Homo sapiens: one gene and its partners. The protein of the gene in region 2 purifies or fractionates together with the protein of the main gene of each other region. This does not show direct contact. Each region holds a gene or a part of one and is shown on either strand. Other genes may lie near its edges.

Evidence for each region. Proteins that work in one complex are often made in the same cells at the same time.
Region 1: the proteins of SIRPD (region 2) and GUSB purify together in Homo sapiens (affinity purification with mass spectrometry; one large-scale study listed by BioGRID and IntAct). This does not show direct contact.
Region 3: the proteins of SIRPD (region 2) and METRN purify together in Homo sapiens (affinity purification with mass spectrometry; one large-scale study listed by BioGRID and IntAct). This does not show direct contact.
Region 4: the proteins of SIRPD (region 2) and MELTF purify together in Homo sapiens (affinity purification with mass spectrometry; one large-scale study listed by BioGRID and IntAct). This does not show direct contact.

The regions. Positions count from the first base shown.
Region 1 is NC_000007.14:65,960,184-65,962,698, reverse strand, and holds the end of GUSB (beta-glucuronidase isoform 1 precursor), read left to right. Parts: intron 1-1,635; coding exon 1,636-1,802; 3' UTR 1,803-2,015; downstream 2,016-2,515. UniProt on the Homo sapiens protein: Plays an important role in the degradation of dermatan and keratan sulfates.
Region 2 is NC_000020.11:1,551,206-1,554,705, reverse strand, and holds part of SIRPD (signal-regulatory protein delta isoform 1 precursor), read left to right. Parts: intron 1-2,656; exon of another isoform or gene 2,657-2,667; coding exon 2,668-3,015; intron 3,016-3,500.
Region 3 is NC_000016.10:713,684-717,917, forward strand, and holds the start of METRN (meteorin precursor), read left to right. Parts: upstream 1-1,434; 5' UTR 1,435-1,606; coding exon 1,607-1,710; intron 1,711-1,900; coding exon 1,901-2,301; intron 2,302-3,249; coding exon 3,250-3,309; intron 3,310-3,387; coding exon 3,388-3,704; 3' UTR 3,705-4,234. UniProt on the Homo sapiens protein: Involved in both glial cell differentiation and axonal network formation during neurogenesis. Promotes astrocyte differentiation and transforms cerebellar astrocytes into radial glia.
Region 4 is NC_000003.12:197,012,818-197,016,317, forward strand, and holds part of MELTF (melanotransferrin isoform 1 preproprotein), read right to left. Parts: coding exon 3,372-3,500; intron 2,700-3,371; coding exon 2,548-2,699; intron 1-2,547. UniProt on the Homo sapiens protein: Involved in iron cellular uptake. Seems to be internalized and then recycled back to the cell membrane. Binds a single atom of iron per subunit. Could also bind zinc.

The sequences.
Region 1 (2,515 bases), on a different chromosome or scaffold from region 2:
GTTTCTCCATGTTGGTCAGGCTGGGCTTGAACTACCGACCTCAGGTGATCCGCACATCTGGGCCTCCCAAAGTGCTGGGATTACAGGCATGAGCCACCATGGCCAGCTGAAACTCGGTCTTAAAAAGAAAAAAGAAATGAGCTGCATCACGTTGGGCAAGTCACCTAAGCTTTTCATAAGCCTGTCCAGTGGGGATAATGCCACCTCCTTGTTGGTGTCGTAAGGGCTGCATTTGATGAAGTACTTGGCGATGCCTGTGTTCACTTATGGAAGAAACAGTCTTGAACCTTTTGGTGGGGAAAGCCCCCTTTCCATTTAACATTTCCATTTAGTGGTGGTCTTACTGGGGACAGAGAATGTCCTGAGAGCACAGCCCTGACAGGTCGTTGCCAGCTGTGCTCCTCCACCAGGCTCAGCTCAGGCCTAATGACCACCAGTGGTGGGTGCTGCCAAGCTGGACGTCAGCCCCGGCGGACTTTGAACTCCATGAGTAGGTCCCACGCAGGGACCTGTGGCTGGTCAGGACCCTGGCTCCCACTAGGCGCTATCTCTTCAGAAAGGCCCAAGGCTTTTCAAGGGTAACTGTCCCAGATACCCCTAGCCCTCTGCCTACCCAGTTACCAGACAGCTGGGTACCCAGCATGTAAACCTTAGTTTGCAAATAAAAGATAAACTTTTAGTGCTTTTTTTTTTTTTGGAGATGGAGTCTCACTCTGTCGCCCAGGCTGGAGTGCAGTGGCACAATCTCAGCTCACTGCAACCTCTGCGTCCTGGGTTCAAGCGATTCTCCTGCCCCAGCCTCCTGAGTAGCTGGGACCACAGGCACCCACCACCATGCCTGTATAATTTTTGTATTTTTAGTAGAGATGAGGTTTCACCATATTGTCCAGGCTGGTCTTAATCTCCTGACCTTGTGATCCGCCTGCTTTGTCCTCCCAGAGTGCTGGGATTACAGGCATGAGCCAATGTGCCCAGCCAGTTTTTGTATTTTTAATAGAGGCGGGTTTCCTCATGTTGGCCAGGCTGATCTTGAACTCCTGACCTCAGGTGATCCACCTGCCTCAGCCTCCCAAAGCACTGGGATTACAGGCGTTGGCCACCACACCTGGCCACTGTTTTGGGTTTTTTTCCCCTAACAGACTAGAAAACTAGAAATTAACACACCAGGGAACCTGGGTGTTTGGGCAGAGCAGTGGTATTTAAATATTTCAACCCATAAATTGTCACTTCAGAGCAAGCATCCTGAAACTGTAAGAGGACATTTGGCTGAGCATGGTGGCTTGTGCTTATAATCCCAGCACTTTAGGGAGGCTAAGGAGGGCAGATTGCTTGAGCCCAGTAGTTTGAGACCAGCCTGGACAACATAATGAGACCTTGTCTTTACTAAAAAATAAAAATAAAAGATTACCGGGCATGGTGGTGCTGGAGAGGCTGAGGCAGGAGGATTGCCTGAGCCCAGGAGGTTGAGGCTGCAGTGAGCTATGATTGTGTCACCGCATTCCAGCCTGGGCAACAGGGAGAAAAAAGAAAAAAAAAGACATTTCTATTTAGTGCCTACCTTAGCTCCAGACTGGTTCTAACTTGACCCATCAGAAGACATCTGAATCGCTTTGTGTCTTTTTTTTTTTTTTGTAGCACCGACGAGAGTGCTGGGGAATAAAAAGGGGATCTTCACTCGGCAGAGACAACCAAAAAGTGCAGCGTTCCTTTTGCGAGAGAGATACTGGAAGATTGCCAATGAAACCAGGTATCCCCACTCAGTAGCCAAGTCACAATGTTTGGAAAACAGCCTGTTTACTTGAGCAAGACTGATACCACCTGCGTGTCCCTTCCTCCCCGAGTCAGGGCGACTTCCACAGCAGCAGAACAAGTGCCTCCTGGACTGTTCACGGCAGACCAGAACGTTTCTGGCCTGGGTTTTGTGGTCATCTATTCTAGCAGGGAACACTAAAGGTGGAAATAAAAGATTTTCTATTATGGAAATAAAGAGTTGGCATGAAAGTGGCTACTGAAAAGCATCTGAAATCATTTCTGTGCGTCGTGCTGTTTTCAGAGCTTTAACTGTGTGTGGACTTTTGAGAAACTGCTGCTCCAACACCCCCACCACGTTCAGAGCAGCTGGTTCCCGAGGGCGTCTGCAGGAATAGCCCCATGGTCCTAGGGCCACCGTGTTTGTGTAGCAAACCAGGCCAGCCTCGACAGGGAGTGAGTAGAAGACTTTCACAGCTGCTGTTCGACTCCTCAGATGAGCTAAAGTCCCACATGTACCAACAAATTCATAGAAACGCTGTCATTGTTGCAGCACTTAACAGGGTCTGTGTGCCAGTTTCTACATAGTTAAGCTGGCAGTGTCTGAATTGGAAGGTTAGAGGTAACTGGTTCTCCCAGAACATTGTTTTGACCTCAGCCATAGGGTCTTGACAGAAATGGACAGATGAGTGTAAAAGCCTATTGGCTTTATCATAACGGATGCCACTGAATGTGACAGGACCTCCTTAAACAACTTTGCCTACAA
Region 2 (3,500 bases):
TCACTCCATATGCAGTATGTTGGTTATCAACATACTGTCCTTAGCTTGGGGCAGTATCCCTGATTTTGAGACAATTAGAAAAATCTGACCCAAATTCTATTTTGCATTTTCTCATTTAATAAAAATATACTCATATATTTATTTAAAATATGTTTATTTAGTGCCTAATATATTGCAGGCCATCCTCATATCCCGATGCAGAAGGAAAGTGTCATTCTCCTATTTGTACACTGGTACCTCCCCTTCACCTCACATGGCACCCAGCATTGTAATTTTTATATGACTGGTGCCATCACATGATGCTGAAATAAAGCTATCATACTGAGATCCCACCTTGACCTATAACCAGACCCTCAGAGCATCTTGAGCCAAGACAGAGAACATAAGAGATGATTCCATGTTTATTTCCAGGAACTCCAGAAGAAGAGTTCCAGGTGAAATAGCCTCAGACTTTAGTGTCAGTCAATCCCGGAGATGTCCTAACCCTGGCCTGCAATATGTCTGCTCTGTCCCCAGAAGGGCCTGTCTTGTGGTTCAAGAGCATTGGGCCAGGACAACAATTAATCTTTAGTTGCAATGGAAGCCACTTCCCCAGAGTAACTCCAGTGGAAAACACAATGGTTGATCAAACTGACTATTCCATTCGCATCAGTGACGTGTTGCCAGAGGATGCTGGCACCTACTACTGTGTGAAGTTAAGGGTAGGACACCCTGACATGGAGTTTTTCTCTGGTCCAGGCACCACCGTGTATGTGAATGGTGAGCACAGCCTGATGCACTTTATTCCCTGGGTTTATGAAGATGAATCTTTAAAACCCTTCACCATGTACCAAATCATCACTACATACTGAACACCATGCTCCTTTATCCACGAACTACCCTGTAGACTAGGTTTCTTCTAATAGCCTTTCTAGTAAGCCATTCTGGACAACCTGTGCCAAATACTGAATCAAGCTATGTTGACAAGCCACATCCTTCTCTGATGCCAACCCCACCAGAACCCAATGACATAGGAGACATTTACAAATAAAAAGATACTGGATATGCAAGGTGCAACTACATGTGTGCACTGCATGGCCTAAATGGTAAGAAAACTGGGTCCTAGAAGGCTGACTGACTTCTAAGGTTTTACGAAGAAACCTGGGCCCAGGTATATGCATTGTGTATATTATGACTTATTCCATGACCCTGAACTTCCAGTCACAGATGCTAGTAGCCACATCTTAGCTTCTGATGGAATCTCAACATAGGTGAAGTTTTCCCCAAAATGCCCAGTATCTCCTGGGCCAAAACAAAGGGCTCTTCAGGCAGGTAGAATCTCTACATGCCTCCATGATCCCAGTCACCTTCCCATTACCAACTGGAATGTGATGGGGACCTGATAGCAAGTACCTGAGTGGTCACCACAGTCCAGTCTGAGATCACACTCCCATTCCCCATACAAGTCAATGAGTGGATGTGATCTCCTACCATGGCCTGGCACTGTTGTTAGGGAATTCTTAGACCAGAATGAGGGGTCTTGTGTATCAATCTCTCCAAAGTCTTTTTTGCAAAAAGCCTTCCCATAGGGGTTGAGTCATTCCCTGACACTTGAACTTTCCCAGGTCTGTCCTGAGACTTCCATGCCCAGCCCCACTGTTCTTTAATTCCCAGTATTTTTATTCCCAGGATAACCAGTATTTCCTTCTCCTCACCACCCTCTGAATTAACGTCATGAAATACAGTGGTATTAGGTGTCCCTCAGTTCTACCAGGAGAACTGACCTTCCCAGTAATGTTTCCCTTGAATCCAGACACATTCCATAATGCCAAAATGGCAATGGAAAATCCACAGGTTTCCCTTAAGTTACATAATGTCAATGCAGGCTGCCTTCCTACCATTACCTCCTGGCCCTGCCAGCCAGGAGTTCCCTTTCTCTCTAACCTGCTCCTTAGGCAGTCTGTGGTTTTGACAACCAAGCTTAATAGGAGAGATTATTACCAGGACCTGACACATTGTAGGGTAGTGATGATGACTGTGTAGGAGGGTAAAGGGTGGCTGGTGAGAACCTCCAAAATTGTAGAGGGCCCTTGAGGTTCTAATCTCTTTTTGTTGAGGAGAGGAAACCCTCTCCCTTCTCTCTCTTGAAGAGATAAGTAGTGGAACCATATGCTGTTGCCAAGACCACCTCATTCTTTAATTGTTTTAACTTCTTCTGTGCATCTCTCAGCATGAATTTCTGTACAAATTCAGAGGCTAATCACCCTTCAGAGGAGAGAGGAAGGCCAACCCCAAACTCAGTGGAGATGTAGGGTTGAAGGACAGGACTTGAACCCAGTTCCAAATGTACCGAGTGACTCTAGGCAATTAGATGGATAGGGAAACTAGTCTTTCTCCAAGAACATTACCCATTGATAATTGCCCCTTCTCTCTCCCTGTCCTCCTCTTACCACGGTTGAGGGCTGAGGAATGGAACTGAGGAGGAATACATCTGGTCTTCTGGACTAACTCCCTTCCTTCAGCACTCTAGGGAGAAGCTGCCTCCATGTGCAAAGGCCTCTCTTTACTCAATGCATGGGCATTTGCGCATGTCATTAAAAGAATTAATGAATGAGGCCCAACCGTGACCCGTACCCATGCTTAAGCCAGAACAGGGGAAATGAGAAATGATTTTCAGCTTTTTTCCAGGAGTCACACATGTGTTCCATGTGCAACAAACGGAGATGTCACAGACTGTATCAACTGGGGAGTCAATCATCTTGAGTTGCAGCGTACCCAATACCTTACCAAATGGACCTGTCTTGTGGTTCAAGGGAACAGGGCCAAACCGGAAATTAATCTACAATTTCAAACAAGGTAACTTTCCCAGAGTAAAAGAGATTGGAGACACCACCAAGCCTGGCAACACAGACTTTTCCACCCGCATCCGTGAAATCTCTCTTGCTGATGCTGGCACCTATTACTGCGTGAAGTTCATAAAAGGAAGAGCTATCAAGGAGTACCAATCAGGTCGGGGCACTCAGGTGTTTGTTACTGGTGAGTATGTCTCCTATACCCCATACCCCCTGGTGTATAATATCATCTCAGCAGTTATGTCTTCTATTCATTCAATAATTGCTATGTGCCAAATATTATTGAAGGTACAACATACATTTGATCTTTTTAATTCTCTCAGCAAGCTGTGAGTTAGGTATTTTACAGGAAGAAAAAAAGACTTGAAAAGGTTGAGTGATGAGTGATAAGAGCTATTTTGGTTGATTTCTCAATATTTAATCCACCCCCATGACTAACCTAAGCCAACTAGGATAATTCCATGTTCCCTGCTAGAGGTTTACTCAAATATGGGCTGAACTTGGCCAGTTTGGGTCTATCAGAGAAAAAGACAGGCTTGCAGAAAAATCTGGTAATCTAAAGTAATTCTTCCCTTTGTTGGCTGGAAACAAGCAACTGTGTTGCTCCAGGTGCTTTAAGCAGGCATCTTATGACCATGAGGGGAATAAGGTTGAGAAAAAGTCTAGATG
Region 3 (4,234 bases), on a different chromosome or scaffold from region 2:
TCAGCTGCAGACAGGCCTTTGGGAGTCTTCCACCTTTTGGGGATTGTGATGGCTACTTCTGACCTGCACCTCGCCCAGAGCAAGGGGCTGGCCGAGCCCAGTAGGCGCCTTGTTCCTGTTTGGCCTGGGAGGGCCCTGGGGTTGAGGGAGGGCCTGGTCAGTGGGATCCAGCCTCCCACTGCCACTGAGCCATCTGGCCTCATCTGTCCGACTGCCACTGGTGAACTCATCTGTCCACCATGAGTTTCGAGCGCCGGGTGGCAGGAGGTTTGGGGGCAGGGGACGGAATGTTCACATCTTCAGGCTGCACAGTCTATGCTGGTCCTTGCAGTCCCCGGCTAAAGCTTCTGTCGTCCGTAAGGGGTTCAGTATGTAGTGGGACCCCTTTGCTTGTGCCTTAGGCCTTCTGTGATCTGACCTGTCGTCCCCACCCACCACCCATGCCCTGGGGTTTCACTGGGCTGCCAAGAGCTCCTTCCTCAGGCCCTTGACCCAGGCTGTCTGCTCTCCCCCATTCTCTTCCTGTCCACCTGGCCAGCCACTGCCCACTTCCTCCCATCAGGCCAACTCAGCAGTCCCGGATGCTGGGAATCCCACACTGCTCCAGCCTGAGGCTACAGTGTGTTTGCGAATCGCCTGTTTCTGCTTGTTTCATCTTGGTGGGGGCTGCTCCTGTGGCCCAGGGGTGTCCTCCCAGCTCCTGTGTCTCCACGTGCTGCAGGCCTGCAGGGGTGCCCGTGGCTGCTCCATTCACGCCCCTCCAGGAGCCCCGTCTGGCCCGGGGTCGGTCATCCGGCAACTATGGGGTGCCGCTAGGTCTGAGGAAAGGGGCCTAAGCCTGCGGGCTGCGCGCTCTTCAGCAGGACCCCCTCCTGCAGACGGCCTTACCAAAACCCGAGGCCTGGCCCCGCTCCAAGGCGCAGCCCCCAGGCCAGGCCTTCCCCGCCTCTGGAGTCATGACCCCTCTCCTCTGGGGCTCCACCGGCCTCTGGTCAGCAGGACCGGACCTGGTTGGGAGGGATGTGGCCAACAGGCCCAGGTCCCAGTGTTAGGAAGGAGCAGGCCCGGCCGCCCGCGAGGCGGAACCACCAGGTGGGCCACCTTCCCTACCGCCACCCCGAGGTTCCAGTGGACATCAAAACCTCGGCTCCATCAGAGGCTCCAGGACTCCGATCGGGACAGCGCGGGGGGCGAGGCCAGGGTGAGGGCGCGGCGAAGGAGAGACGCACAGCGCGGGGCGGGCAAGGAGCCTCCCTTCCGCGCCAAGGCCCCCCCCAACCCTCGAGGCGCTTGGACCGTGGGATAGTCCTCCGGCGGCGCCCGAGCTCCGGCCCCGCCCCCGCTCCGCCCCGCGCCTGCTATTGGCGGAAAGTTCCGGGCCGCGCCGCGACTGGCCGACACGCCGCAGGCCCCGCCCCCTTCCCGACCCGCTCCAAGGCGGCCCCGGCGCTGGGGCTGCGCGGCAGGCGGAGCGGCCGCGGGCTTGGGGGCTTCGCCGGGGCCGGGCGGCCGGCGCCCCCGGCTGCTCCCGCCGCCGCCCGGACCCGCGCCCCGCCGGGGCAGCGGTGGTGAGAGCCCCGACTCCCCGGACGCCGCCCGCCGTGCCATGGGGTTCCCGGCCGCGGCGCTGCTCTGCGCGCTGTGCTGCGGCCTCCTGGCCCCGGCTGCCCGCGCCGGCTACTCCGAGGAGCGCTGCAGCTGGAGGGGCAGGTACGGTCCGGGGGGCTGTCCCCGCACTTAGGACGGGGTGCGCTGCGGCTAGGACCCCCCAGGCGCCCCTCGGAGCGCGCAGAGCGCTGGGCCGGTTTCCCCATCCGCGAGGCGGCCTCGGGAGGGAGCGGGGGCTGCGCCGGGCGGGGACCCGCCCCCGTCTCAGCGCCCCGTCCCGTCCTGTCCCCAGCGGCCTCACCCAGGAGCCCGGCAGCGTGGGGCAGCTGGCCCTGGCCTGTGCGGAGGGCGCGGTTGAGTGGCTGTACCCGGCTGGGGCGCTGCGCCTGACCCTGGGCGGCCCCGATCCCAGAGCGCGGCCCGGCATCGCCTGTCTGCGGCCGGTGCGGCCCTTCGCGGGCGCCCAGGTCTTCGCGGAGCGCGCAGGGGGCGCCCTGGAGCTGCTGCTGGCCGAGGGCCCGGGCCCGGCAGGGGGCCGCTGCGTGCGCTGGGGTCCCCGCGAGCGCCGGGCCCTCTTCCTGCAGGCCACGCCGCACCAGGACATCAGCCGCCGCGTGGCCGCCTTCCGCTTTGAGCTGCGCGAGGACGGGCGCCCCGAGCTGCCCCCGCAGGCCCACGGTCTCGGCGTAGACGGTGAGTGGCGGTCTGGTTGGGACAGGGTGGGAGTCCCGAAGTCTTACCCTGCCTGGGCTTGGCGGGAATGTGCCTTGTCGGCCCCACTGCAGAAGGAAAAAGTGAGCTACAAGGGTTGGATGGGCTTGTCAGGCCACACAGCCTGGGACTGCTGGGGAGGGATGGCCTCCCCGCCCTCCCTTCCCGATTCATCTCTGGAAAGAGCTGGCAGGGGCAGAGTGGAGGGAAGGGGAGGCCGGGCCCAGCAATCCTGGGCCTCTGGTCCCTGAACGGTTGGGGGAAGAGATGGTGGGGACAGAATCGAAGCCTCCGGCCAAAGCTGTCCGGGGCTCCCTGGCCCAGCGGTGACCTCTCTCCCCTCCCCCAGCCCAACCAACAAAAGTCCAGTGTGCAGCCCGGTCACCATGGAGACGCCGCTCGCCTCCCTGCAGGGCACCAGGCCCAGCTCTTGCTTGGCTCTCCTGGAGCTTGGCGCCTGACCCTGAAAGGGATGGGCTCTCGCTATTCTGCCCCCTGGCCCTGGGCCAGGGACCCCAGACCACCCTTCCTCTGCCCCCACTTCCTATCACCCTAGCTGGGCTGCTGCTCTTCAGACCTCAGATCCGGGAAACTAGAGGGGTCCCAGATGCTGGGGTGCATATGTCAGATGGGAGTGCAGGAGGGCGGCCCAGGACAGCTGATCGCTAGGCATGGCCCCCAGGCCCACGTCTGTGTGCATTCCTGCCTTGGAGGTACGCGCCTGCAAGTGTGTTTCCTGAGTACAGGTGTCGCCGAGGGCGTGCACATCTGCTGTGTAGCTCTCTGGGACCCCCAGGTGCCATCAGGCCCTGAGCGTGGGCTCTGCTCATTTGCCTGCTGCCTCCTGCCGCTTGTGCGGACAAGGGACGGGGCCTGGGGTGATGCCGGGAGAGGGCAGGGCCTCTCCTCACCACCCCCTCTGCATGCCAGGTGCCTGCAGGCCCTGCAGCGACGCTGAGCTGCTCCTGGCCGCATGCACCAGCGACTTCGGTGAGTGTCCCCGCCATGGGGGGAGCCTGGAGCCTGCCTTCCCCTGAATGCCTACCGCAGCCACATGCCTCCCCACAGTAATTCACGGGATCATCCATGGGGTCACCCATGACGTGGAGCTGCAGGAGTCTGTCATCACTGTGGTGGCCGCCCGTGTCCTCCGCCAGACACCGCCGCTGTTCCAGGCGGGGCGATCCGGGGACCAGGGGCTGACCTCCATTCGTACCCCACTGCGCTGTGGCGTCCACCCGGGCCCAGGCACCTTCCTCTTCATGGGCTGGAGCCGCTTTGGGGAGGCCCGGCTGGGCTGTGCCCCACGATTCCAGGAGTTCCGCCGTGCCTACGAGGCTGCCCGTGCTGCCCACCTCCACCCCTGCGAGGTGGCGCTGCACTGAGGGGCTGGGTGCTGGGGAGGGGCTGGTAGGAGGGAGGGTGGGCCCACTGCTTTGGAGGTGATGGGACTATCAATAAGAACTCTGTTCACGCAAGCTGCTGTGGACCTGGTCTCCTGTGTCCAGCCCAGCCTTGGGCCTGCCTCGCAGCTGTGAGGATGGCTCCAATTCCTGCCTCCTGGCGGGAGACTGAGGCTCAGGGGAATGGTATCTTGTTCAAGACCATTTGGCAACTGAGAGGGAGAGCAGATGTCAGGAGGAGCTACACCCACATTCCGGGGAGGGGCCGCTGCTGGGTGGGGGGCACGTGGGGACCTGCACTCATGCAAGCTTCTGCTCTGCTGCACCCACCAGCCCCGTCCTTGCCCGCACCCTTGCCTGCTTCCCTGGCTGGCTCCCACTTGCCTCCCGTGCCAGGTGCTTCTGGGGCTCAGCAGGAGAGGAAAGGGGCAGAGGGGCATAGGGTCCCTCGGGTACGGTGGGGGCAGGCGGGCGCACAGCGCTCCGGCTCTGAGCCAGGCCTGTGAGGGAAG
Region 4 (3,500 bases), on a different chromosome or scaffold from region 2:
ATGGGGGCCAAATCGAGTGGGTCATGACAAGTGTCAGGAAAAAAAGGATTAGAATAGAATACATTAGAAAATAGTGGGTACCATTTGTGTCATATCTCTGTATATAAAGGACATACATTTTTAAATTTCTATCTGAAAGAAAAGTTTCCGTTCACTAGATTGTGATCAATGCAAAATGTATTCTGAGTGCTCGGTGCTGTCAGCAATGCTGAACTTCCCTATGAAAATTCCAATGACATTCTTTACAGAATTAGAAAGAACAATCCTAAACTTTGTATGGAACCACAAGGGACCCTGAATAGCCAAAGCAATCCTAAGCAAAAAGAACAAAGATAGAGGCATAGAAACGGACATATAGACCAATGATCCAGAATAGAGAACCCAGAAATTAACCCGCAGTTTTACAGCCAGCTGATTTTTGACAAAGGTTTCAAGAACCTCTTTGGGAAAAGAGTGATCTCTTCTTCAGTGGACGCTGCTGGGAAGAAGCTGAATGTCCAAGTGCAGAATGAACGGGGCCCTAAACTACCCCTCACCCAGCACAGGGACCAACTCAAAATGGATGAGAGGCCTAAATGCAGGGCCCAAGACAATAAAATTGCTGAAGAGAATATAGGCAAAACGCTTCAGGACATTGGTCTGAGAAAAGATTTTATGAAAAGACCTCGAAAGCATAGGCAACAAAAGCAATAATAAGCAAAGGGAATTGTATCAAACAAACAAGTTTCTGCACAGCAGAGAAAACAACGAACAGAGTGAAATGAAGACAGCCTATGGAATGAGAGAAAATATTTGCAAACTACTCATCCAACAGGGGATTAATATCCAGAATACACATGCAACGGAAACATCTCAACAGCAGAAAACCATCCAACTTAAAAACGGGCAAATGATCAGAACAGACGTTTCTCAAAAGAAGACATACAAAATGCCAGCAGCCATCACTGATCATCAGGGAAATGCAAATCAAAGCCACAGTGAGGTATCAGCTCACCCCAGTTAGGGTGGCTGTTATCAAAAAGATAAAAAATAACAAATGCTAGTGAGGATGCAGAATAAAGGAAACTCTTACACACCGTTGCTGGGGATGTAAACCCGGACAGCCGCTATGGAAAACAGTACGGAAGTCCCTCCACAAACTACAAATCGAACTATTGAATACCATATGGTCCAGTAATCCCACCACTGGGAATCTGTCCAAAGGAAAGGCAATCAGCCTGTGGAAGGGATGCCCGCACCCCATGTTTATCGCAGCACTGGCCACAATAGCCAGGATGTGGAATCAACCCAGGTGTCCAACAACAGAGGATGGATAGAGAAAATGTCATTGGCATGCACCGTGGAATACTATTTAGCCATAAAAAAGAATGAAATCCTGTCACTGGCAGCAACACGGACGGAACTGGGGGACACCGTGTTATGTGAAATAAGCCAGGCACAGCAAGTTAAACACCATATGTTCCACTCATATGTGGAAGCTAAAAAAAGTTGATCTCACAGAAGTAAAAAGTAGAACAGAGGATGCTGCAGACTGGGAAGGGTAGGGGAAGGGAGGAATAGGGAGAGTTTTTTTTTTTTTTTTTTTTTTTGAGACAGTCTCTCTCTTGTCGCCCAGGCTGGAGTGCAATGGTGTGATCTCGGCTCCCTGCAACCTCCACCTCCCGGGTCCAAGCGATTCTCCTGCCTCAGCCTCCCAAGTAGTTGGGATTACAACTGTGTGCCACCATGCTCGGCTAATTTTTTTGTACTTTTAGTAGAAACAGAGTTTCACCATGTTGGCCAGGCTGGTCTTGAACTCCTAACCTCAAGTGATCCACCCACCTTGGCCTCCCAAAGTGCTGGGATTATAGGTGTGAGCCAATGCACCCAGCCAGGAGAGATAGGAGGAATAAGCTCCAGTGTTCTATAGACTGTAGGATGACTAGAGTTAACAATAATACATAGTTTCAAACAGGTAGGACGATATTGCATGTTCTCCACACGGAGAAATGAGCAATGTTTGAGATGATGGTATGTTAATTATTATCCTGCTCTGATCACCATGTATTCTATGTATCAAAACATCAGTATGTATCTCATGAATATGCACAATTATTATTTGTCTATTTAGAAAAATCAGGAAAAAAGAAAAAAAAAGTCGAACAATGATCCACGCCCACTCTCTATTGCACAAGGGAAGGCTGAGATTCAGAAAGGGGAAGGGGCTTGCCCCAGGCTACAGGGCGTCAGTGCCCAGCTGGGCCAGCGCTTCTTCTGCTCCTGGCACCCCCACTTAGTGAGGAGCTCCCAGGCTCTCCAGGGGACTCACCCCTATCTGCCTGTCCCCTGGGGTGGGTGCTGGCCCCTGCGGTCGCTCCTCCCCGCCTGTCTCTGTCCCCTGGGGTGGGTGCTGGCCCCTGCGGTCGCTCCTCCCCACCCGTCTCTGTGGGCTTGTTGCAGTAGACACTCTCCTCTTCCCCAGGCAGCAGGGGGTGTGGGTAGTAAGAACTGCCCAGGCACTGCCACCACCCGCCCACCTGGCCCACGCTGCACCTGCGTGACTCCCACCTGGATCCGCTCCATGCAGTGTTGGGGGGACTTGGCTGACACGCACTGGATCTCTGGCTTGAGCCGCTGCCGGCGGAAGGCCACGGCCATGTCTCCACACTTCTGGATCTCGGGAGTGGAGAGCACACACCAGCGCAGGTAGGGGGGCAGCCCTGGGGTGGGGCAAGCAAGCGGTCACTGCCAGGCCAGTACTGCCATGGAAGAGCATGGAGTCGGACCCAAGGGAAATTCTGGGCCTTTCTCCTGTCAGGTGTGTGGCTGGGATAAGTTATTTAACCATCGGATCCCACTTCCTCACACAGAAAAGGGGCAACTGTGAGGCCTGAGGAAGACCATGGCTGGCGTGCATGTAACTCAGTGTGTGGTACCCACTTCCCTGGCTGGAGGTGGAAGATACATGGGGCCAGGGGGCTAAAGGCAAGAAGCTCACTTGTAGACTACTGCAATAGTCCAGGCGAAAGATGGCACCTGCGCCAGGGCTGTAGCCATGGGGTAGAGGCGGGGAGTAGGAGCGAGAGGCTGTAGAAGAGCTGACAGGATGCCATGGCCGTGGATGGGGGGGCGAGGAGACCCTTCCCAAGACAGATTCTGATGGTCTGCATCCTCCCCCGCTGCGGCCAGGTGGGGCTTCCGAGGTACAACAGGCCATACAGTGGAAGAGATGCCTCCTCCCCAAAGCCCCAGGGGCAGAGGAATGGAAATGACAGGTTCCCGCAGAGGCCTCCCTGGTGAGCGTCTTCCCCCGGCCACTTTCCCAGAGAGCCTCGCCATGCCCGAGGTTGAGCTGGGCTGGAGCTGGCAGCAGTGGGGACAGGTGGACTTACGGTTGGGGTCACAGAGCAGACCCTTCATGGCGTGCAGGTACTCATGGCCCAGCCACGCCTCATAGGTCTGTGTGGCGATGGGCACAAGCTCCGAGGTAGAGTCTTTGAAGAGTAGATCCTTCTGGCCAT